Linked DNA regions of Homo sapiens: regions 1 and 2 are each linked to region 3. Evidence: fine-mapped expression QTL. A gene starts in region 3. Each other region holds a variant in brackets. All regions are shown on one strand. Distances are from middle to middle.

What was found. PIP is the estimated chance that this variant, and not a neighbour inherited with it, causes the effect.
Region 1: its variant is fine-mapped to the expression of ZBTB24 in monocytes (Quach 2016, PIP 0.95).
Region 2: its variant is fine-mapped to the expression of ZBTB24 in hypothalamus (GTEx, PIP 0.95).

Annotation. Positions count from the first base shown.
Region 1 is chr6:109,664,799-109,672,985 of GRCh38, forward strand. AK9 (adenylate kinase 9) reads right to left here. Exons shown (of 41, transcript NM_001145128.3): 4 at 7,317-7,369; 5 at 7,121-7,217. Among named protein-coding and RNA genes, the nearest start is that of AK9, 22 kb to the right of the region's middle. The variant T/C (reference allele first, on the strand shown) is at 4,567.
Region 2 is chr6:110,137,919-110,146,105 of GRCh38, forward strand. All of the region lies in intron 3 of WASF1 (WASP family member 1), which reads right to left. Among named protein-coding and RNA genes, the nearest start is that of WASF1, 38 kb to the right of the region's middle. The variant C/T (reference allele first, on the strand shown) is at 3,884.
Region 3 is chr6:109,480,046-109,488,232 of GRCh38, forward strand. ZBTB24 (zinc finger and BTB domain containing 24) reads right to left here and starts at 3,174. Exons shown (of 7, transcript NM_014797.3): 1 at 3,053-3,174; 2 at 1,030-2,009. The coding sequence starts at 1,981. ZBTB24-DT (ZBTB24 divergent transcript) reads left to right here and starts at 3,599. Exons shown (of 4, transcript NR_187591.1): 1 at 3,599-4,792; 2 at 7,891-8,014. RefSeq lists an enhancer at 665-1,166 and silencers at 2,865-3,154, 3,235-3,674.

The DNA.
Region 1 (8,187 bases), 180 kb after region 3:
CCGAGGAGGGTGGATCACAAGGTCAGGCGTTCAAGACCAGCCTGGCCAACATGATGAAACCCCATCTCTACTAAAAAAAAAAAATACAAAAATTAGCCAAGCATAGTGGCGGGTGCCTGTAATCCCAGCTACTCGGGAGGCTGAGGCAGGAGAATCGCTTGAACCCTGGAGGCAGAGGTTGCAGTTAGCCGAGATCGCACCACTGCACTCCAGCCTGGGCAACAGAGCGAGACTCCGTCTCAAAAAAAATAAAGAAGAAGAAGACCAAGAACCATCATGCTAATTCAAAACCTAATTAAATGCTTAGGCATACACAATGTCTCCTAAGCTTTTTTGATCACTTTACTTTCTGCTAACAGTGTGTTGGGCTCTATCCAGAGAAGCAATCCTACCTAATTTAACTTAAAAAGGCAGAAAGGATGACCTTGTCATCTTGGTTTTAGATATATGAACTGTAGGTATGATTCCCTCTTGTCTTGCTATGATCCTTAGTGTCCAACTTGACTTACTTACATGCTCCTGCTATTGTCTTAAACATAGCGTGGTATCCCCAAGGCATCTATCCTATTGGAGGTTCATTAAATTAGCTCAGTACATCCCTAAAAAAATGTAGACACTGCCTGCACTGTCTCAAGAAATGGGCCAGACCTTTCTCTACCTGCCTCTTCTTGTTGTTCTCTTTCTGCTTTTCTGGCTCCACACCACCCTCATTTGGTTTGGCATCTTTGCTCTTGTGAGTCTAGCTTCCACTTGATTAACAACATGTTTGAACTGGTTTTTAAGACTTTGACCAGTATCTCCTCTGGGACACGATGGCTGGCATTAACTCCTGGTCTGACACATTGTGATGGTAGGTACTACACTGAACGGGACTGCATGCCTAGCTCTGGATGGAACTCAGACCTTGGCAAGCTAACTCCTCCAAGTTAGACAGTTCCAGAGACCATCTATCTCCAGAGTCCTTGCCCTTGCCTTGTAAGCAAAAGCAACAGTATCTCCCTGCCATTCCCTATGCTGGTAATACTTCCCAACATCTGTGTATCGTAAGTGGATCACAGAAAGATGCTTGGCACTGTTTGCTGTGCTTGCCAAAACCTTCCTGTTCCTACAGCCACTGCCACTGCCACTGCCTGGAGAGCTTGTCAGGCATTCCACGTGCAACTGTTTGCAGGAATGCTGAACTTCTGGTGTACATGTATATTGGAATGATGTTCATACTTGGTCTCTTTACTGATGGAAATGGCAGAAGAATAAGTAATTTCCATGGATCTAGCTCTCTCTTGAAAGGCCATTGTTTGGGCTGCCTGAATGTTCTGAGCTATGAATTGTGGGGCTCTACCCTCTGAGAGATGTCTAGTATTATCATTCCAGAGCCTAGGGGTGTATCTATGGGAGGAGGTGTGGGATAGACAATTATGTCATCTAAGTTTGTCTCACCATTGCAGATGTAAAGTGGAATAGATTAGTCCTCTAGTCCCAATTCTGGAAGATCCCAGGGACACACTGCTTGTTAAACAGACCAGAACTACTGAGCCCAGTGTCAACCTTTCCAATTCCAGAGACATGTGAGGATGAAAGCACAGATGAGGAACTCCTCGCTCCCACCCCACATGTCCTTGAGACCATTACCAAGCCCTTGCCCTTCCATGCTAACGATGGAGGAGTGGCGCACCCCAAGCCAGTCCTTGCTGGGAGACTTTGCATGTTCTATCATAGGCAGACTAGGTGCTTTGTAGGCCATTGCCCAGTTCTCATTAGCTCAACCAATGAGAAACTGTAAGACTGTCCAGACCACTGCCCAGAGGAAACTGACTTGTCTCAGGCCCATACCATCACTTTGCCACCATTTCTTGGCACAGTGGGAAGAAGGCATTTTCTATTTCCATACAAATGAAGATGGCAGACTACTGCTTTCAGATTGAAGTGATGACAGATTCAGAGATATCAGGTAGCTTTGTGTTCAGCCATCCCTGCTACCCATCTGACCTCTGGCCAGGCTGATGTAGCCTTGTGTCCAGCCATCTCTTCTACCCATCTGACCTCAGACCAGGCTGATATGAGTGGACACATTGGTGACCAATGACTTGCAAGACTATTCATAAAGATATACTCGGGGCAGGGAATGCCCAGACTGGGGCTATTCATTCACTGGGGAAAACGAGATTTTCCAGAATCTAGAAGCAGGGAGCAGTGAGGAGCTTTTAGGATGCCACATATTGACTCTATCTGTTTCTCTTGGGTAAGGATATAGCTCCGAGAAGCTGATTTTGGCTAAGGGCCAAAACAACACAATAGATTGTGAATGAAAAGATAATTATAGATCGTGTAGGCCCTTTTAAAATAGTGATGGAAACACCAATTATTAAAAGGGCTCTAGTATAAAACAAAATTAAGATGAATTTGGCAATACTCTGCCGTGTGATGTCCCTGGAAGTGCACATATCTCTTCAGGGATTTTGGAGTCATCAATTATCCATCCTCACCCAGCCCCCCACTCAAGTTGTTTTTTTTTTTAATTCTCTTTGTTATTTTATTCCATTAATCTCATTTTGAAGTTACTATTTTAGTTGTCATTTGCTTAATTATTTTTTCTTTTGTTTTATTTTATTTATTTTTAATCATACTTTAAGTTCTAGGGTACATGTGCACAATGTGCAGGTTTGTTACGTATGTATATGTGTGCCATGTTGGTGTGCTGCACCCATTAACTCGTCATTTACATTAGCTATATCTCCTAATCCTTTCCCTCCCCTCTCCCCCCATCCCACAACAGGCTCCAGTGTGTGATGTTCCCCTTCCTGTGTCCAAGTGTTCTCATTGTTCAATTCCCACCTATGAGTGAGAACATGCGGTGTTTGGTTTTTTGTCCTTGCGATAGTTTGCTGAGAATGATGGTTTCCAGCTTCATCCATGTACCTACAAAGGACATGAACTCATCATTTTTTATGGCTGCATAGTATTGCATGATGTATATGTGCCACATTTTCTTAATCCAGTCTATCATCGTTGGACATCTGGGTTGGTTCCAAGTCTTTGCTATTGTGAGTAGTGCCACAATAAGCATATGTGTGCATGTGTCCTTATAACAGCATGATTTATATTCCTTTGGCTATATACCCAGTAATGGGATGGCTGGGTCAAATGATATTTCTAGTTCTAGATCCCTGAGGAATCGCCACAGTCTTCCACAATGGTTGAACTAGTTTACAGTCCCACCAACAATGTAAAAGTGTTCCTATTTCGCCACATCCTCTCCAGCACCTGTTGTTTCCTGACTTTTTAATGATTGCCATTCTAACTGGTGTGAGATGATATCTCATTGTGGTTTTGATTTGCATTTCTTGGACGGCCAGTGATGATGAGCATTTTTTCATGTGTCTGTTGGCTGCAGAAATGTCTTCTTTTGAGAAGTGTCTGTTCATATCCTTTGCCCACTTTTTGATGGGGTTTTTTTTTTCTTGTAAATTTGTTTGAGTTCTTTGTAGATTCTGGATATTGGCCCATTGTCAGATGAGTAGGTTGCAAAAATTTTCTCCCATTCTGTAGGTTGCCTGTTCACTCTGATGGTAGTTTCTTTTGCTGGGCAAAAGCTCTTTAGTTTAATTAGATTTCATTTGTCAATTTTGACTTTTGTTGCCATTGCTTTTGGTATTTTAGACATGAAGTCCTTGCCCATGCCTCTGTCCTGAATGGTATTGCCTAGGTTTTCTTCTAGGGTTTTTATGGTTGTAGGTCTAACATTTAAGTCTTTAATCCATCTTGAATTAATTTTTGTATGAGGTGTAAGGAAGGGATCCAGTTTCAGCTTTCTACATATGGCTAGCCAGTTTTCCCAGCACCATTTATTAAATAGGGAATCCTTTCCCCATTGCTTGTTTTTGTCAGATTTGTCAAAGATCAGATAGTTGTAGATCTGCGGCATTATTTCTGAGGCCTCTGTTCTGTTCCATTGGTCTATATCTCTGTTTTGGTACCAGTACCACACTGTTTTGGTTACTGTAGCCTTGTAGTATAGTTTGAAGTCAGGTAGCGTGACGCCTCCAGCTTTGTTCTTTTGGCTTAGGATTGCCTTGGCGATGCCAGCTCTTTTTTGGTTCCATATGAACTTTAAAGTAGTTTTTTCCAATTCTGTGAAAAGTCATTGGTAGCTTGATGGGGATGGCATTGAATCTATAAATTACCTTGGGCAGTATGGCCATTTTCACGACATTGATTCTTCCTATCCATGAGCATGGAATGTTCTTCCATTTGTTTGTGTCCTCTTTTATTTCATTGAGCAGTGGTTTGTAGTTCTCCTTGAAGAGGTCCTTCACATCCCTTGTAAGTTGGATTCCTAGGTATTTTATTCTCTTCGAAGCAATTGTGAATGGGAGTTCACTCATGATTTGGCTGTTTGTTATTGGTGTATAAGAATGCTTGTGATTTTTGCACATTGATTTTGTATCCTGAGACTTTGCTGAAGTTGCTTATCAGCTTGAGGAGATTTTGGGCTGAGACGATGGGGTTTTCTAGGTATACAATCATGTCATCTGCAAACAGGGACAATTTGACTTCCTCTTTTCCGAA[T/C]TGAATACCCTTTATTTCTTTCTCCTGCCTGACTGCCCTGGCCAGAACTTCCAACACTATGTTGAATAGGAGTGGTGAGAGAGGGCATCCCTGTCTTGTGCCAGTTTTCAAAAGGAATGCTTCCAGTTTTTGCCCATTCAGTATGATATTGGCTGTGGGTTTGTCATAAATAGCTTAATTATGATTAGATACATCCCATCTATACCTAATTTATTGAGAGTTTTTAGCATGAAGGGCTGTTGAATTTTGTCAAAGGCCTTTTCTGCATCTATTGACCTAATCAAGTTTATATCCCTGTTTTGAAAACCCTTCACTTCCAATTTTGCTTCTACCTTCTACCAGGCTACGGGTTGAGAGCAAACATCAGGATGAGACGCCTTGCTGGGAATTTGGGCAAAGATTTTCAAACTGTATTTAGCCGAGTGCTAGGTTCTAAAACAATTCCTGTGGGATGCTACAGGATGGGTTAAGGGGTGGCTGGGCAGAAGGCGCTTTAGGTTCCATCTCCACTGCAACCTTTAAATGAGCTCGTTTGTGCATGCCTAGAACGTGGCCTTGTAACCAAATGGTGAGGGTGTGGCCCCCAGACTCAGGAAACCATTTATATCACTTTTCCTCTGCCAGCTCCTAGGACAAGTATCGGCATACAGGAAGTACTGGGGTCTGAGGAATGCAATCAGCCAAATCCAGAATGTGGGAAACTCTACAAGACAAATGACCTGTTTTCTTCATCAGAGAAGAAACAATAAGATAGAAAGAAGTAGGGGAAACTTATATATAAAGAGACTTGAGACATACTAATCACTTGTACTATGTGAAACCTGGTTAGATCCTGCTTCAAAAAAAATCAACTAAAAAATATCTATGAGGTAATTAATGAAATCTAGTAGATGATATCAAGGAATAACAATTAATTTTTTAGGTGTGATAATGGTAATGTGTAATAGGTTTAAGTGTCCTTTTCTTTTAGAGATATAAATGGAACATTATACAGATGAACTGATATGATATGGATTAGCTTCAAAATAACATAGGTTGAGAGAAGGGAGTAAGTAGAAGTGTAGATGAAACGAGATTAGACTAGAGTTGGTTTTGGACATATGCTGAACCTGAGTGGTAATGTGGAAGCATCTTTATACTAATCTCCCTACTTTTGTTTGAACTATTTCCTAATAACAACTGTAAAACATTATGAACACCATGAGAGGCACAACTGAGTTTCTTCGTGTTGTTTTTTTTTCTTTCTCCTTTTGCCAATACTTATAATTTATGTCATCTTTTTTGTAGCCATGTAAACCAATTTAAGTTTTTCAAGAGGTAAGTGAGGTTAACAAATAGGTATTTACTTACCTACCTATATACATATCTGTTTCAAATACTATGTTTTCTGAGGTCATTTATTGACGTAATTTGGAATTCTGTGATTCCTGTTTGCCTTTTTACTTATCCAGCCTTCCATATTCTGGATATTTTGCCGTTCAGTCTCTTTATCACTGCTGAACAAATAGGTAATAAGTGGATAGATAGGTAGATAGTTTACAGAGAAACCTTATCTACTTATAATGTATTTATAATCCATATATATTAATCTCTATATATGTATTATATATAAAAACCCATATATCCATATAGAGACCTGTCTACATATGTGGATATGGGACATTCTATGTATCATCTCTCTATACACATGAGCTATATGAAAAGGAATCTTTTTGTCTATAGATAGAAACCAGTAAATACAGTTTGACAAGGCTGCGTTTGCTGCTTCCATCATTGATTTGCTTTGGCAGTTATGGTTTTTACTTTCCTGTATTTTTATTCCTGCATTAATAGTTACAATGTCTTCTTCTAACTTACTAAGAATATAAAACAACTTTCTTAATTTTTCTTTTTTCATTCAGTAAATCCATTTCAGGTGGATGATTTTATCCCAAACTTGTCATTATTCTTCTCCTCTTCTTTTGCAGAGGTATTAGAGTTTGCTCTTTTCTTTTTAATCATTTTGAGCTTCAGTGGTCTTTGTCTTGAAAAATTAGATCCAAAGCCCTTGCTCAGCATCCATTTGAGTACCAGGAGAGGTTTCAGGTCCAGAGTCAGAGGGCAGACTGGAAGAACAGGCTGAAGCCTGACAATATCTGGAGCTCAACAGTAAGATAGTGGCATTCCACTTCCCACTCCCGCCTTCTAAGTGTGGATTAATGCAGACAACCCTAGCCATTGTCAGGACTTAGCAATATAACCCAAGGTGTATGAGGAAGCAGTCAGCAGAGTTAGCAGTACTGCAAGATGGACCACAGCAGATTTCTGATGCTTTTACTGGATAACACAATGTTAAAGAAGATTGGGTCATATAAACTTATTTTTAAAACAAATGTACAATCTGAGAAATAAAAACAAGCAAATAAAACCATCTGAGCTGTTCAACTGAATAGAGATAATGAGATTCTTATGCTAAGGCAAAAGAAAGGGCAACTCCAGAAACTATTTTTGCCTCAGATAAAGCATGAGTTTTAAGGCTGCTTTGTGGGCTGTAAATATATTAAAATAAACATACCAAAGTGACAGACTTCTGGGGAGTTGAGCTTCTCCAACATTAGCTTTATGACAAGTTCATCTGGAATGCTTTGACCGCTGATCAACATTGATTGCAACTAAGGACAAGCATAGATATTGTACATTACTGTATAATATATCTATGATACAGAGCTTTTTTTGTAATCATAGTTACTTTGAAATTTAGGTTTGTTTACCATAACTCCTGATTCGGTTTCAGCAGCAATCTGTTCTTCTAAAATTGGCAAAGCTAAAACATGAATTCAAAATATTAATACAGACTGATATTAAGATCACCAAAATAAGAAACACATTCTAGTGTCTTGTAACTGGTAACAAAGATTAACATTTGTGCATCACTTTATAATTTACAATGCAAATGTATGCATATTACTTCACTTAAGCCTAACCAAAGCAGAAGCAGCAGAATGTCTTCCATAGAGAACTTGTCTCTGCCACTTACTAAGCTTAAGAATCTTGGAGAAGCGAACATGGTGACTCATGTCTGCAATCCCAGTACTTTGGGAGTTCAAGGCAGGAGGATTGCTTGAGCCCAGAAGTTTGAGACCAGCCTAGGCAACATAGGGAGACTACATTCCTACAAAAAGTTAAAAAATTAGCAGGGCATAGTTATGGTGCATGCCTATAGTCCCTGCTACTCAGGAAGCTGACGTGGGGTGATCACTTGAGCCCAGGAGGTCAAGTTTGCAGAGAGCCGTGATCATGTCACTGCACTCCAGCCTGGATGACAAAGTGAGGGCGTGTCTCAAAATAAAAATAAAAAATAAAAAAATAAAGAATCCTGGGGGAGTTAACTCTGTAAACGCCTCTGCACCTTGGATGCATATGTACTGTGTAGTGTACAATAGAACGTAAGGATGAAATCAGGTGGTGTATATGACAGTGATTTCTAAATCATTTAGTTACAAAAGTATGCACTGGTATTAATTAATCCAGATTTTCATAACCATACAATTACATCCAAAGCCTGCTAGTTTTGCACATGGTGTAAAAGGAAATGAATCAAGAAATGTTAAAATGGGTAAACACTGATTAGAAAGAGGGGTC
Region 2 (8,187 bases), 660 kb after region 3:
CCTTAGGGTGTGTCACTTTTCCAGCTGGAAACCTCTGTGGCCAGTGGCACCTGTGCCAGAGTTTTGCTCAGGGCCACTGGGCTTGTTCCGCTCACTCAGCCTGGCAGGCTGCGCAGCTCATACTACCAGCCTGGATCCCACACCTGCCAAGGGTGAGCCAGGCACGGAGTGGCAAGGGGTGTGTAAGCAAGCACAGGGTCTGGCCACTGTGCATAGCCAAGCATGCTGGCTGCAGTGGGGCAGGGAGCTCCAGGTGCTGGCACAGGTGTTGGCTCCCTGAGAGGCTGCGGCTGGACTAGGTATACCACAAGTGGCTTCCACCACAGGAACCAGGGAACACTGTGGTGCCCAGAAGCTTGTAGACACCAGGAACTGCAGAGCCCCAAAGAGAGTGTCACAGCAATGGCTTAGGAAGCTCCTAGGTCTGGGATCTCCAAAGGCCACAGCTATTTTCACCTTCTCTCTTCTCTTCTTCTCATTGCCTGCAATGTGGCAAGTGAGGATCATGTTTCAGCTCTGTGTTATAGCTCTTCCAGTCCTGCCATTCAGCAGGTCCCGAGTTCTTGTCCCACGTCTGGGAAGAATGAAGCATGTGAAGAGGAGCATCACTGAGCGACAGAACAGCTCTCAGGACACCGGAAGCGGGTAGTCCCTTTTCACAGGCAGATCATCCCAATGAGTGTCCAGCTCTCAGCAGAGAAGAGACCAGGAGTGGGTAGCTCTTCTCCATAGGGAGGTTGTCCCAATGAGTTGAGGAGACCCAAAGTGGGTAGCTCCTTCCTGCAGCTAGTAGTCCCAATGTCTGTGTGAATCTGGCTGAGTCTGAAGTTTTTATGGGCTCAGAAGGGAGGAAGAGCATGCTGATTGGTCCATAGGCGGCCATGGGTGGGCTTGGAAAAGACACCATAAGTTCTCACTGTGGTCCACAGAACTGAGAGCCCAGCCCCCAGGCTACAGGCCTTCCCTGGCTTAAAGATGGGGTTTCACTTGGGACCCACCCTTTTCCACTCAGGAGCCTGTCTGCCTCCTGTCACCATCAACATGCTGTCCATGGCACCCAGGCTGTTCATGCTGAGAGATGCCTTCAGGCCTGAGCCGAGCTTCCCTCAGCCTCACTTCCATTTTCCTCCCATGCTCATAGGCACCCAAAGTCTGGAGGGGGTCAAGGTGGCAGGGGTTGGTGTGTCAGTACTGCCTTGAGCACACACACACCTGGCCAGCTTGTGACACCACCCGGGCTTAGCCACAACTTTGCTCTGCCCTGGAACAGGTGCCGGGATCGGGGAGAGACCAGGGAGTGGGAGCAGGCACTTCCAAGCCTGTGGGGGCAAAGAGATTTCCCAGGCCCCCAAGAGCACGGGGATGGCCAGGACCACAGCCCGTGGCTGGGTGGCTGCAGTTGTGCCCAGTAGCACAGGGCTCCCACCCCACCAACTTGGTAGAGCGCAGGGCTCCCACCTGTTCCCAGCCCTGACCGCTCCTCCCCCGTTGCAGCCAGCATCTTTGCAGCAGCTGCTACATACGGGCTGCTGCCGCCATCATAAGCAAAACCTTAACTTTTAACTTCAGAGCACTGACCCCATTTCTCTGAAGTCTGCATCTCCTGAATGGCTATTCCCAGCTTTTTGCTTGAATAAACTCTTTAAACTGGATTCTGATTCTTTCAATTATCTTAGGTTGACAGACTAGACTTTCTTCCTCCAGTCTTATATTTTCTCCTTGTCATTCCATCTACACCACCACTCCCACCAATTCAATCCATCCCACACCACTGCTTTAAGAATAGAGCAGATCCCCTCCAATCCATGGAGGATACATTCCAAGACCTCCAGTGGATGCCTGAAACCACAAATAGTACTGAGCCTATATATACTATGTTTTTTCCTATTCATACCTGTAACATTTAACTTATAAATTAGACACAGTAAGAGGATAACCCAATAACTAATAATAGAAAATTATAATAATATACTATAACAAAAGTTGCATGAATATGACCTCTCGCTCTCTCAAAACATCTAATTGTACTTGTAATATTATGAAATATTTATTTGGTTGGCTTTCCACCCAATTTTCTGGGATACAACTTCTAAATTCCTTAGAATATCTAAAGCATTGCTTTTTTGTAGGATTGGGGCTGGTCACCTGAAAGACAAATGCATGATTAGAGGGTTGGAACTTTCAGCCCCATCCCCCTAACATCCAGGGAGCTGAGACAGGCTGAATGTTAAGTTGACACCAATAGCCAAAGGTTTATTCAATCATGTCTATGTAATGAAGCCTCCCTAAACACTCATAAGGATGGGTCTGGAGAGCTTCCAGAGAGGTAAACACATGGAGGTTCCTGGAAAGTGGTATGTCCTGGAAAGGCATGGATGCTCTATGCCCCTTCCCCTATAACTTGCCCCATGCATTCTTATCTATGTTCCTTGTAATACCCTTTAATAATAAATTGGTAAGTATAAGTGCTTCCCTGAGTTCTGTGAGCCACTCCAGCAAATTAATCAAACCCAAAGGGGGAGTCATAGGAACCCAACTTGAAGTGGGTAGGAACAGAAGTTCCAGAGGCCTGAACTTGCAACTGGTATCTCAAGAGGTGGCAGTCTTGTGGGACTGAACCCTCAATCTATGGGATCTGACACTATCTCCAGGTAGATAGTGTCAGAATTGAATTGAAGAACACCCAGCCAGTGTCTGCTGAAGAATTAATTGCTTGCTTGGTGTGCGGGGAAAAACCCCACACAACTGATCACACAAGTATTCCGTGTTGATTGTTGCTGTGGTGTGAGAGCAGAGGAAAAACACATTGAGTGTGTTTCTTCAACTCACAGTACTGAACTCCCCCTTCTTGTGATGGTGTGAAATGATAAAATGCCTACAGGATCAGATGAAATGAGGTGAATGACATAGCTACTGTGACATAGTGTTAAGCTATGTCAGAAGGAGCCATGACAATGTCAACGGTTGAAAGTCAGGAGCTGAGGATGTCAATGACCAATGAGAAGGAAGCATATACAGTGTGGATATGCTAGACAAAAGGATGAATCACATTCCAGGCAGGATGGCACAAGATTTCATCATGCTACTCAGAATCACATGCAATTTAAAACTTATGAATTTTTTTTTCTGGAATTTTCCATTTAATATTTTTGGGCCATGGTTGACCACTGGTAACTAAAACCACAGAAAGCAAAACCATGAATGAAAGGGGGACTATTGCATTATAAAAATTTTGAATCTGGAAATGTCCTTCTGCAAAATCAAACCCTTCCTTGGTTCCTTGTTGTCAGGGTAAAGTCCAAACATAATATACAAGGTTCTTCAGGATTTAGCCCACCTCCTCACTTCTACCCTCATTTCTCACTACACTCCTACATTATACTCTAATTATTCTAAATATATCTTACTGTTTTATAGTCCTGCCTTTCCTCATGCTGCTCTCTGCCTGGGATGTATTTCACTTTTTTATCCTCAGAGAGAATATATAATTGTTCAAGACTAGACTCAGGCAGCAACTCTTTTCTGAAGACTAACTGAATCCCCCAGGCAGATGTAACCATCTACTCTTTGATGCCCTCAACATGGATCCACAAATGCATCTACCGAATTACTACCAATTATACTTTACTATACTGTGCTTATTTGTTTACACATCCATGCCTGAATGTCAGCTTTTAGAAGGCAAAAATCTTGCCTTACTCGCCTTACTCAACTTGTATCTCCAAGATCTAGAACACAGATGTTCAACAGCTAATCAATAAATAAATGGAAGAAATAACAAAATCATGAGCTTTAAGGAAGCCAAAAAAGAAAAAATAGGTTGCTGCGGGAAGACAGACACACATACACTTATCTTTTTTTTTTTTTCTTTGAGTCGGAGTCT[C/T]GCTCTGTCACCCAGGCTGGAGTACAATGGCATGATCTCGGCTCACTGCAACCTCCGCAACCCAGGTTCAAGCGATTCTCCTGCCTCAGACTCCTGAGTAGCTGGGATTACAGGTGCGCACCGCCACGCTCAGCTAATTTTTGTATTTTTAGTAGAGACAGGGTTTCACCGTGTCAGGCTGGTCTCGAACTCCCGACCTCGTGATCCACCCGCCTCACACATACACTTTCTAAAGCAACTACTTAATCATGATTCTAAGGAGCTGCTTTTTTGTATGTGCATGGAAAAGAAATACATTTGAGAAAAATAATATCTTACAAATGTATTATGGAATCATAGGCTTGCTTGTTTCACTCTCCCAAGAAAAAGCATGGATGGATCATATCTTACTCATTTCTTCATCTTTATGGGCTAGCTCAGAGTTCAAGGGTATAAAATCACACACATTTTGATGAAAGGAATGTACAGCATACAGACTAGTTTTGAAATATTATCCAAATCGCAAAAGAAAAATGGCTTTCATTGTGATTAAAATAGTGCCTTTAGGTACAATGCAAAAGCTTTTTAGAGAGAAAACCTTTCCTCATCCTTTCTTTTTACTTCAGTTTCAACACCAGATCCATTTTCTTATTTCTCTACCTTATTCCTTGGTGATTTCTAATGTCATTTATCTAACTCAACTATCAAAATCTCAGTGGCAGAAAGTAAAATAAAGCCTAATAACTTTATCTCCTAAATCCTGAGAAAACTGCCTGATTCCCATTTTAGAGCAATCCCAACACCATCTTTTTCATGGGATCCTTTGTCAGGCTAGAAAAGAATTTTAAAAAAATCAAAAAACAAAAGAAACCCTAAATGCTAAAAGGTATAATTTAATCATCAAGCAAATATAAAATCAAATTCATCTCAGTATTTTTAATACTGCAAATGATACACTGTTTAAGAATTTAAACATTGCATAGAATGAACCAATTACATATAATTTAACATCTTTTAATCCATCAGTGCCTAACTTGCTTAATAAGGGGGAACTTTTTTATTAAAAAGGGCTAAATTATACGGTGCTATAACATAAAATAACCAATTTTTGAATTTCCCGACTATTATATAACACATGTGGTTCCAAAAGTAATTTGGTTTCCCAATGATGTAAAAAAAAAAAAAAAAAAAAACTAAAGCAATTCCCAAGTTTCTTCGTTTATTTTCCTGTGTTCTTATCAATTAAACTATCAATTGCTGAAGCAAACATCAATAGATTGTTGAGAGTACGTAAACTAAAGAATATATCCCCTAAAAAGATTTTAAAATAATTTTTAAGAATAACTTAGCTAAAATCTTAATAATCTGTTTTTAATTTTAAAAAAAACCTTTTCATGGGTATACTTTTAAATCCTGATATAGATTTTAACATTAAAAATAAAATGAGCTACAATACTGTTTATAAGATCTCACAATATCTTATATTGAAAGCCCTCTTTTAAGAAGGCAAGGAAAATGAAACTACTGAAATCTAACCATAGCAAAATGTTTGACAGAATTCTAAATTGTTTATTTTGATGACTACTGCTAATATTGATAATATACTCTCTGTTAAAGAATGCCTTCTCTTGATTCAAAATGAGGCATATATATGTATGAGTATAAGCAATATATAAAGTATTAAAAATAACCCAAGATCAGATGTCATAATGATTTTATGAATTGAGAAATCAGAAAAGTACACTATCTAAATTCTGATTTCAGAACTCAAAAAATGGCCTGTAAAGTTTATTTAAAACGTTTAAAGGACTCCTTGTAGTTAACAATTCAGAGGAAAATAAAATAGCTGCTTATTTTAAGATGTCACAGAAATAATTACATTAACAGTTAATAATTGCTTTATGGGTTATACAAAGAACATAAGAATTAAAAGTATTTTATTACCTAATCAATGACAAGTGATTAATTCTTTACATTCATGGTCAATGAAATAATTTACGATCATTTAAAGGTGTTTCAGTATTTTTAAAATGACATTAATGTTAACTAAAAAATTATATGTCATAGAAATATAATTTTCATTGTTGGACATTTGGGTTGGTTCCAAGTCTTTGCTATTGTGAATAGTGCCGCGATAAACATACGTGTGCATGTGTCTTTATAGCAGCATGATTTATAGTCCTTTGGGTATATACCCAGTAATGGGATGACTGGGTCAAATGGTATTTCTAGTTCTAGATCCCTGAGGAATCACCACACCGACTTCCACAATGGTTGAACTAGTTTACAGTCCCACCAACAGTGTAAAAGTGTTCCTATTTCTCCACATCCTCTCCAGCACCTGTTGTTTCCTGACTTTTTAATGATTGCCATTCTAACTGGTGTGAGATGGTATCTCACTGTGGTTTTGATTTGCATTTCTCTAATGACAAGTGATGATGAGCTTTTTTTCATATATTTCTTGATGGCATAAATGTCTTCTTTTGAGAAGTGTCTGTTCATATCCTTTCCCCACTTGGTGATGGGGTTGTTTGTTTTTTTCTTGTAAATTTGTTGGAGTTCATTGTAGATTCTGGATATTAGCCCTTTGTCAGATGAGTAGGTTGCAAAAATTTTCTCCCACTCTGTAGTTTGCCTGTTCACTCTGATGGTGGTTTCTTTTGCTGTGCAGAAGCTCTTTAGTTTCATTAGATCCCATTTGTCAATTCTGGCTTTTGTTGCCATTGCTTTTGGTGTTTTAGACATGAAGTCCTTGCCCATGCCTATGTCCTGAATGGATATGCCTAGGTTTTCTTCTAGGGTTTTTATGGTTTTAGGTCTAACGTGTAAGTCTTTAATCCATCTTGAATTAATTTTTGTATAAGGTGTAAGGAAGGGATCCAGTTTCAGCTTTCTACATATGGCTAGCCAGTTTTCCCAGCACCATTTATTAAATAGGGAATCCTTTCCCCATTTCTTTATCAGGTTTGTCAAAGATCAGATAGTTGTAGATATGCGGCATTATTTCTGAGGGCTCTGTTCTGTTCCATTGGTCTATCTCTCTGTTTTGGTACCAGTACCATGCTGTTTTGGTTACTGTAGCCTTGTAGTGTAGTTTGAAGTCAGGTAGCGTGACGCCTCCAGCTTTGTTCTTTTGGCTTAGGATTGACTTGGCGATGCGGGCTCTTTTTTGGTTCCATATGAACTTTAAAGTAGTTTTTTCCAATTCTGTGAAGAAAGTCATTGGTAGCTTGATGGGGATGGCATTGAATCTATAAATTACCTTGGGCAGTATGGCCATTTTCACGAAACTGTTTCTTCCTACCCATGAGCATGGAATGTTCTTCCATTTGTTTGTATCCTCTTTTATTTCATTGAGCAGTGGTTTGTAGTTCTCCTTGAAGAGGTCCTTCACATCCCTTGCAAGTTGGATTCCTAGGTATTTTATTCTCTTTGAAGCAATTGTGAATGGGAGTTCAGTCATGATTTGGCTCTCTGTTTGTCTGTTATTGGTGTATAAGAATGCTTGTGATTTTTGCACATTGATTTTGTATCCTGAGAATTTGCTGAAGTTGCTTATCAGCTTAAGGAGATTTTGGGCTGAGACAATGGGGTTTTCTAGATATACAATCATGTCATCTGCAAACAGGGACAATTTGACTTCCTCTTTTCCTAATTGAATGCCCTTTATTCCCTTCTCCTGCCTGATTGCCCTGGCCAGAACTTCCAACGCTATGTTGAATAGGAGTAGTGAGAGAGGGCATCCCTGTCTTGTGCCAGTTTTCAAAGGGAATGCTTCCAGTTTTTGTCCATTCAGTATGATATTGGCTGTGGGTTTGTCATAGGTAGCTCTTATGATTCTGAGATACATCCCATCAATACCTAATTTATTGAGAGTTTTTAGCATGAAGGGTTGCTGAATTTTGTCAAAGGCCTTTTCTGCATCTATTGAGATAATCATGTGGTTTTTGTCTTTGGTTCTGTTTATATGCTGGATTAAGAAAATGTGGCACATATATACCATGGAATATTATGCAGTCATAAAAAATGATGAGTTCATGTCCTTTGCAGGGACATGGATGAAGCTGGAAACCATCATTTCTCAGCAAACTATAACAAGGACAAAAAAACCAAACACTGCATGTTCTCACTCATAGGTGGGAATTGAACAATGAGAACACATGGACACAGGAAGGGGAACATCACACACCGGGGACTGTTGTGGGGTGGGGGGAGGGGGGAGGGATGGCATTAGGAGATATACCTAATGCTAAATGACGAGTTAATGGGTACAGCACACCAACATGGCACACGTATACATATGTAACAAACCTGCACGTTGTGCA
Region 3 (8,187 bases):
TAGGGAGCTTTTAAAAGCACCAAGGCTCCAGACAACTAAATCAGAAGCTCTGGGGTGGAGGTCTAGGCACTGGTAGTTTTAGAAGCTCCCTAAGTGATTCCAATTTGCAGGCTGAGAACCACAGCACCAGATACTGCTGGATCACAGGAGAAGACTTAAGCCCCAGTCCCTATACTTAAGATTACAATTAAGTTGAGGGATATACAAGTGGTAACAACAATCTGATCCAAAGCAGAGTGGGTTTTAAGCACCTGAAAGGGCTCAAAGGAGGAAGGGATTTCTCACTAGGACTGCAGTGTCCAATACGGTAGCCACTAGCCACATGTGGTTATTCAAATTTAAATGAATTAAAATAAAATTTAAAATTCAGTTTCTCAGTCACGCTAGCCACAGTTCAAGTGCTCAAAAACCACATGTGGTTACTGGCCACCATATTGGACATCAGAGATGTAGGAACATTTCCATCATCACAGAAGGGTCCCATTGGTCAGCGCTGGGCTAGAGGGACCAAAAATGAGAAGGTATTTAAAGCTAGATAGCTGAGTTACAAAGTGATCTACACAGACTTGGGCAAAAGCATGGTTATGGTCAAGATGAAGAATGTTCAAGAATCAGAAAGCAGGGTACATTGGGCTAGATCTTGATAAGTGGACATTAAAGGATTCATTCAACAACTACAAATGAGAGGGGTTCTTGAACCAGGCTACCTGGGTTCAATCCCAGCTCTGTCACTAACGGGTGACTCTGGCAAGTTATTTAAGCTCCCTAGAACTTGGTTGCTTCATCTGTAAACTATGCACTTTAGCAACCCTCTCTTACATATGAGTAAATATGATTTTAATCATACAATGTATAATGAGGATATTACCCACCTTGCAGGATTGTGGAGAAAATTAACTGCAATAACATGTATAAAGGCTTTATTACAATGCCCATCACACAGAAGTTGCACAGTAAATGGAAGCTATTATTATCATCACTACTCCCAATTCTGCAACACACTGCAATCAGCTTTGAAAACATCATTACCTGTGTGGCTCCTCTGGTGGATTGCTAAAAAGTGATTGTACTTAAAGACCTTGCCACAGTCTTTACAGCGGGCCTCAGGGCCTCCAGGGCGCTTTCTCCTTCCACAGATCCTCTTGGCTGAACCATGGTCCTCTTGATCCCCAACAAGTTTGTAATCTTTAAGTTTGACGGATCTCCAAATCCTCCGCTTGCTGTATCGACTCTGGCTTGCCTGGCCATCCTCGGTCTTGGGATCATAGTTCTCATCTTTTTCAACTGGCATTTCCTCCTCTCTACTTGGCTCACAAGTAGGCTCCGATTCTTCCTTTTCTTTTGCTGCAATTTGCTCATTCAGTACACCACTGTCTCCTTTAACCACAAAGTTTTGTCTATTCTGAACTGAATTGTTCACTCTTAACTGTATTTCTTCCTCTGCAGCCAGTTCTGATTTCTCCTCCTGCAATGTATTGACTTTTTTTGGTCTTCCCCGTTTCCGCTTTGGAGGATCGTTTTTCTTATTAGAGATAACAACCACTGGGGCACCAGCAGTGTTCAAAGTTGTTGGCTTTGGGGAGCTATGATTATTTTGGAAGTCTGTGTAAGCCTTTACCAGGTCATAGACTTTTAAGAACTGAGCAGTAGCCAGGATTTGTTCTGTACTTTTCTCACTGGCATGGAGATAACCTGTGTAGATAAATTCCAGCAGGATACCAAAGGTGTCTGCAACCATGCCTTCCAGCATATAAATGGATTGGCCGATTTCCCCCTCTTCTGCAAACATCATTGAGAAGTATTCACTACTGGCAGCAAGTAAGGCTTTGTGGGCCCGGAAATGTACATTCTCCACGATTAAAGTAATGTCACAGAGGAAGCCTTTCTTCCTCTGATCCTCAAAACTGGCCAGCACAGTGTCACTGTGAGCGTCTGAGTGTACAACAAGCTGCCCAGAAGGCTCTGGCGATGTTTCTGCCATTTTCTTCAGAAGCCACTAAGGGTTAAATCTGAAATAAGAAAACAAGGTTTAAAAAGGAGAAAGCACTGTCTAAAAGGTTAATGCCAGCCCACATGAACTTCCTATTCACTTCACATCATTAACTGAATTTTACCATTACCATTTTTGTCTGTCTACAAACTTAGCTCTGGGCCCGGGCGCAGTGGCCTCACGCCTGTAATCCCAGCACTTTGGGAGGCCGAGGCCGACGGATCACTTGAGACCAGCCTGGGCAACATGGAGAGAATTCATCTATACAAAAAATACAAAAATTAGCCTGGCGTGGTGGCGCCCGCCTGTGGTCCCAGCTACTCAGGAGGCTGCGGCAGGAGCATCACCTGAGCCTGGGAGTTCGAGGTTGCCGTGAGCCGTGATCGTGCCACTGCACTCCAGCCTGGGCGACAGAACGAGACCACCACCTCAAAAAACAAAAACAAAACAACTTAGCTCGCGGTTTTTTTTTTTTGAGACGGAGTCTCGCTCTATCGCCCAGGCTGGAGTGCAGTGGCGCAATCTCGGCTCACTGCAACCTCCGCCTCCCAGGTTCAAGCAATTCTCTCCCTCAGCCTCCTGCCGCACATTAACTAGCTGAGTGACTCTCCAGTATTCATGGAACGGTTCAGGGTCTACCTTCTATAAAATGAAGGAATGGGATTAACCATCTCCAAAATCCTCCGCAAGCACGAACTTTCTATGGTTGCACAACTATTTCAGGGAGAACGAAGCTGCCTCCATCTCCCAGATTATTAGCCATTTCGTATGTGGGAACCAATGTGAAGAGTGAAGAAATGTGCACGTGCAAAGTGAATGTGAGGTAGCTGCAATAAAATACTAATAACTTAAGCTGCGTGGGGCCGCCAGACACACTAGGGGCGGCGCGGAGCCCCCCGCAGCCCCGGGTGGTCCCAGCAGGGAGAGGTGGCGCGGAAAGACCCCCACCTCCCCGCCCAGGCCCCGCGGGCCCGACTGGGGAGCACACGGCGGGGGAGGGGTCGGCGCGGCAGACCTACCGCTCAGGGGCGCCCGGTGGGGTCCGGGTCGCTGCCAACTCACCCGGCGGCCTGGCGGGAGACCCACGCCGGGGCCCGCTGGCCCTCCGCTCCGCCCCGCCCGCCTCTGGGGCTTCTGCGCCGCACCGGTTTCTGCTCCTGCGCCGCCGCCGCAGCCACAGCCACAGCCAACCCGGAAGCGCGGCGCCAAGAGCCGCTTGCGCGCGGACGCCGAACCACGTGGCCCGCAGAGGCGCCCCTGGAGGTGGGGGCCACGAGAGCGGCGGGGAGGGGAAGGGAGGTGAGGGGCGGGGCGGGGCGAGATGGCGGGGCGGGGCGGGGCGGGGCAAGGCGGGGCAAGGCAGGGCAAGGCGGGGCGCGAAGGCAGTTCAAGGGTTGGGGCGTGGCAGGGGAGGGGAGGGGCAAGGCGGGGCGAGAATGCAGGCCTGGGGTCGGGGGAGCCGCGGCGGGGCGGGGCAGGGCGGGGCGAGATGGCAGGCCCGGGGCTTTGGGGCCGGGGCCGGGGCCGGGGCCGGGGCAGGGCGGGGAGGGGCGCGGCTTCGGAGGAGGGACAGTGGCCGGGGCGGGGCGCGGCCAGGGGCGGGGCGGTGTCGGCGCCCGAGGTCCTGCGTGTGGCACTGCCGGGGAGCCCAGGCAGGAGCGACTTTTGCGGTGAATTGGGGGCAATGGACAGGAGAGGCGTTGTGACCCCTCCCTTTGGGAAGTTTTATATCGTATTAAACTGTTAGCTCAACGCCAATACCTTAATTTTATCTCTTCTCCGACACCGAATCTGGTGTTGTTCTTGAATGTATAAAGGCATGAAATCCCCCTTACCGTCATCATCATTGTCATCATCATCACCATCGTCATTATCTAGTGCTAATATAATAACTATTACTTACCTCCTAAATGTTTTTCACATCTGCCTCCTTTTCCTCCCCACTCCTGATGCCTTAGTCTAAGGGAATGAAGAGAGCACTGCAGTCAGAGAAACCTGGGTTCTGAGAGATCTTGGGCAAATTACTTACCCTCACAACTTCTTTACCTTACCTGTAAAATGGAGATGTTAACACTAGTGCCACTTTGGTAGGGTTGCTATTGCATAAACAAAATTAAGTATGTAATGGGCTTAGGAAATGCCTGGTTTAATTCGTCTGCTGTGATTAAAATGATCATTATTATTCAAACTTTCATCATCTTTGTTCAATAGACTGTTTCTAACTGGTCTCAGCTGCAGCGTTGTTCTCTTTAATTCGCAGAAGTACAGAGGATTTCTCCAAGTACATATGAGATCCAGAGACTAGAGTCACTCCTTGGCTTAGAATCCATGTGGCTCCCACATGCCCTCTGGATAAAGTCCAGGCTTCTTAATGTGGTCTACAAGCCCCATCCAGATCTACTCCCCACCTGCTTCCATCCATTTATTTCAGCATTTTCTCTCTCTTAGCCAATACCTAATTACTTATTTTTCTGCCCATTTCCAGATTCCCAACATGCCATCTATAGCCTCCCTGATCTTGAACCGGAGGTGTAATTAGCAACCTGGCTCTTACATTTTTACTAGATTTTATTAAAACTAGCTCAAGCCACACATGCTCCTTCTCTGAGGTTTCCCTTTCATATTGAATTGTCTCTAAGTCCTCTGGATTTGTGGGGGTACAAGTGGGATGGGGAGCGCTCCCTGACTTCTGCATACCAGCAGGAAGTTAGCTACCTCATTGTTTCTTGCTGCTACGAGGGTTGCAGTCAAATCACTGTCCCTCCAGAGGTCCTCAACGGCATAAGAAGACTCAGTGCCAAGGTAAGCCAGGTACTTCCATTTCCTCATTCAATCATTGCTCACTGGAGCATAATCCTGCGAGGAAAGACTGAGTCTGGAGGATCTTCCAGCATCAGCCACCCACAACACAGACTAGCCCTTTCTTCAAGGCAATTTTGTTTTGGATCCATACTGACTTTTTCAAAACTTTTGTTCTTGTTAAGGCCAGCCGGTCTACCCCTAACAGGTCTTCTTAAATTTAAATCTTGCAGAACAGGATTTGGGGTGTCATACATTCATCTAACAGATATTTATCGAGTGTCTACTAAGAGCCAGACATTGGCGTCAGGTGTTGGGGATACAGCAACTAACAAGGCCTTTGCTCTCATGAAGCTTACATTCTACTAAGGGGAGACAGGACAAATATACAAGTAAACTAATGAATAATAGTTTCAGAAAGTGTTAAATTTTATAAAGAATGATGATGGAGACTGACAGGGAAGTGAAATCAGGATAGGGTGACATTTGAGCTGAGATCTGAATGACATGGAGACAGCTGTGGGAAGATCTGGAATAAAAATGTTCTAGGCAAGGGAAAAGCAAGCATAAAGGCTCAGACTGGGAAGGAGCATCTGATGAACGGCAAGGACTGTGTGGCTGGAGCACAGTGAGTGAGGGGCAGCAGATGGAGTGGAGAGTTGCCAGATTTCACAAATAAAGACACAGGACACCCATTTAAAAAAATAAATGCTGCCTCAGCCTCCCATGCTGGGATTACAGGCATGAGCCACCTATACCCAGCCAACAAAGAATTTTTTTTCATATAAATTTAGTGTAGCTTAGAGCGTACAATGTTTATAACGTCTACAGTAGTGTATAGCCATGTCTTAGGCCTTCACATTCACTCACCACTCACTCACTGACTCACCCAGAGCAACTCCTATTCCTGTAAGCTCCATTCATGGTAAGTGCCCTACACAGGTGTACTTTTTTTTTCTTTTATACTGTTTTGTTTTGAGACAAAATCCCACCCTGTTGCCTAGGCTGGAGTGCAGTGACATGATCTCAGCTCACTGTGACTTCTACCTCCTGGTCTCAGGTGATCCTCCCCACTTAGCCTTCTGAGTAGTTGGGACTGCAGACATATGCTACCACACTCCACTATTTTTTTTTTTCCGTATTTTTTGTAGTGATGAGGTTTTGCCATGTGGCCCAGGCTGGTCTTGAACTCCTGGGCTCAAGTGCTCTGCCCACCTAGGCCTTCCAAAGTGCTAGGATAACAGGCATGAGCCATCAGTATACTGTATTTTAAGTGTCTTTCTTATGTTTTGATATGTTTAGATACAGAAATACCACTGTGCTACAGCTGCTTACAGTATTCAGTACAATAACATTCTGTACAGGTTGGTAGCACAGGAGCAATAGGTTGTACCATAGAGCCTAGGTGTGTAGTAGACTATACCATCTAGGTTTGTGTAAGTTCACTCTGTGATGTTTGCACAGTGACGAAGTCACCTAGTGATGCATTTCTCAGAACATATCCCTGTCATTAAGCAATGCATGACTGTACCTATAAAAGAAAACCAGTTAAAATGACAGCTGGTTTCTCAACAGCAATAGTAGAAGCCAGAGGTTAGTGGCATGATACTTTCAAAATTCACCTAAAATCTTTTTTATAGACTACAATTATCATGGAAAAGGACAAAATCAAGACAATTTTGGTCAAACAAAAAATAAAAGTATTAACCTCCAACAAACCCATACCATAGGAAGGAAAATAACACCAAGAGGAAAGTCTGAGGTATAAGAGGGAGTTGTAAGCCAAAAAAAAAAAAAAAAAGAGAAAAAAGTAAGTATGAAGGAAATCTAAACAAACATTGATTATGCAAAATAATGTCTAATTCGGAGAGTAAACAAATAGAGTAGATCTAAAATATTGAATGAAAATACCATTTAAGATGGGAAGCTGGTTATCAGTATTCCAGTGTTTTAAGGGTACAGCTATTGATTACCTTGAGGCTTTACATATACATGGTGAAAGAGTAAGGGACAGCCACTTAATTGGTACAAATAGAGTGCATACTTCAAACACTGTAGAGGAGATAATGGCATTTCAAAGTTATTGGTCAATGCCAGGTCGGGTGCAGTGGCTCATGCCTGTAATCCCAGCACTTTGGGAGGCCAAGGTGGGCGGATCACTTGAGGCCAGGAGTTCAAGACCAGCATGGCCAACATGGCAAAACCCCGTCTCTACTAAAAATACAAAAATTAGCCGGGCGTGGTGGCACAGCTACTTAGGAAGATGAGGCACGAGAATCTCTTGAACCCGGGAGGCGGAGGTTGCAGTCAGTTGAGATCATGCCACTGCACTCCAGGCTGGGCGACAGAGCAAGGCTCTGTCTCCAAAAATAAAAAATAAAAAAAAATAATAAAAAAAAAGAGAGAGAGAAAGAGAAGGATGGAGAGAATGTTAAAGGCAAGAAGAGCCAGATCATGTAAAGTCTTTTATGCCAAGAAAAAGGAGTTTCGATTTTAACTGAAATAGGAGGCCACTGGAAGATTATTCAAAAGGACTGTTGAATCTGACTTATGTATTTAAAAATTACTCCAGCTGCTAGATGAAGAGTAGATCCTGGAGGGACATGAGTGGAGGCATGGATATGAGGGTGACAGCAGTGTAAAATGTAAGAAGAGCCCATATTCAAGGTAGATTTGGGGGATAGGTCTTTCTGAGAGGACTTGCTGAGAATAGATGTGCGGAGTGACGGAAACAATGCAATCAAGATTGACTCCTGGGTTTGGGGCTAAATCAACAGAGTGTACGGTGTTACCATTAACTGATCTGGAAGAAGAGAAGTTGGGTTGGATAACAAGTATGGGGTGGACATATTAAATTTGAAATGTTAACTAGATAACCAAGTACAGTAGGCAGTCATAGGTAACAATCTGGAGTTCAGAGCTGAGAACAGAATTGAGATATTAATAATGGAGTTATCAGAGCATAGATTATAAATTGTTGTAAGTAAGATCAGTTACAGAGTGAATATTGATAAAAGGCGATCCAGATTTTTTCTCTTTCCTCTCCAAATGTAGTCTCCATTCTTCTCTCCTTTTTTTTTTTTTTTTTTTGGCCCTGGGAGGCTACAGGGACTCAAGGACTTCATCATCAAAGTCCTGTGCCGGCTAGCTTCCAGTTGTATTGAGTCAATGGAGAATCTGGCAGATTGGAGGAAGGAGAAGGTCATGATCATCTGGCAATTAAAGGTTAGTGGAAGTCCTTTGTCATGATGAAGGGCATCAAAAATATGTGTGTAGCCTGGGATGGTTGGTTGATAACTGTGGCTGGAAGGAACTATAGTCCAAGGCTTATTATGACTTAAAGGGATTTGGGGAGAACAGAAGGACAATTGTCAATGTTCAGTGCCAATAGTGCATCT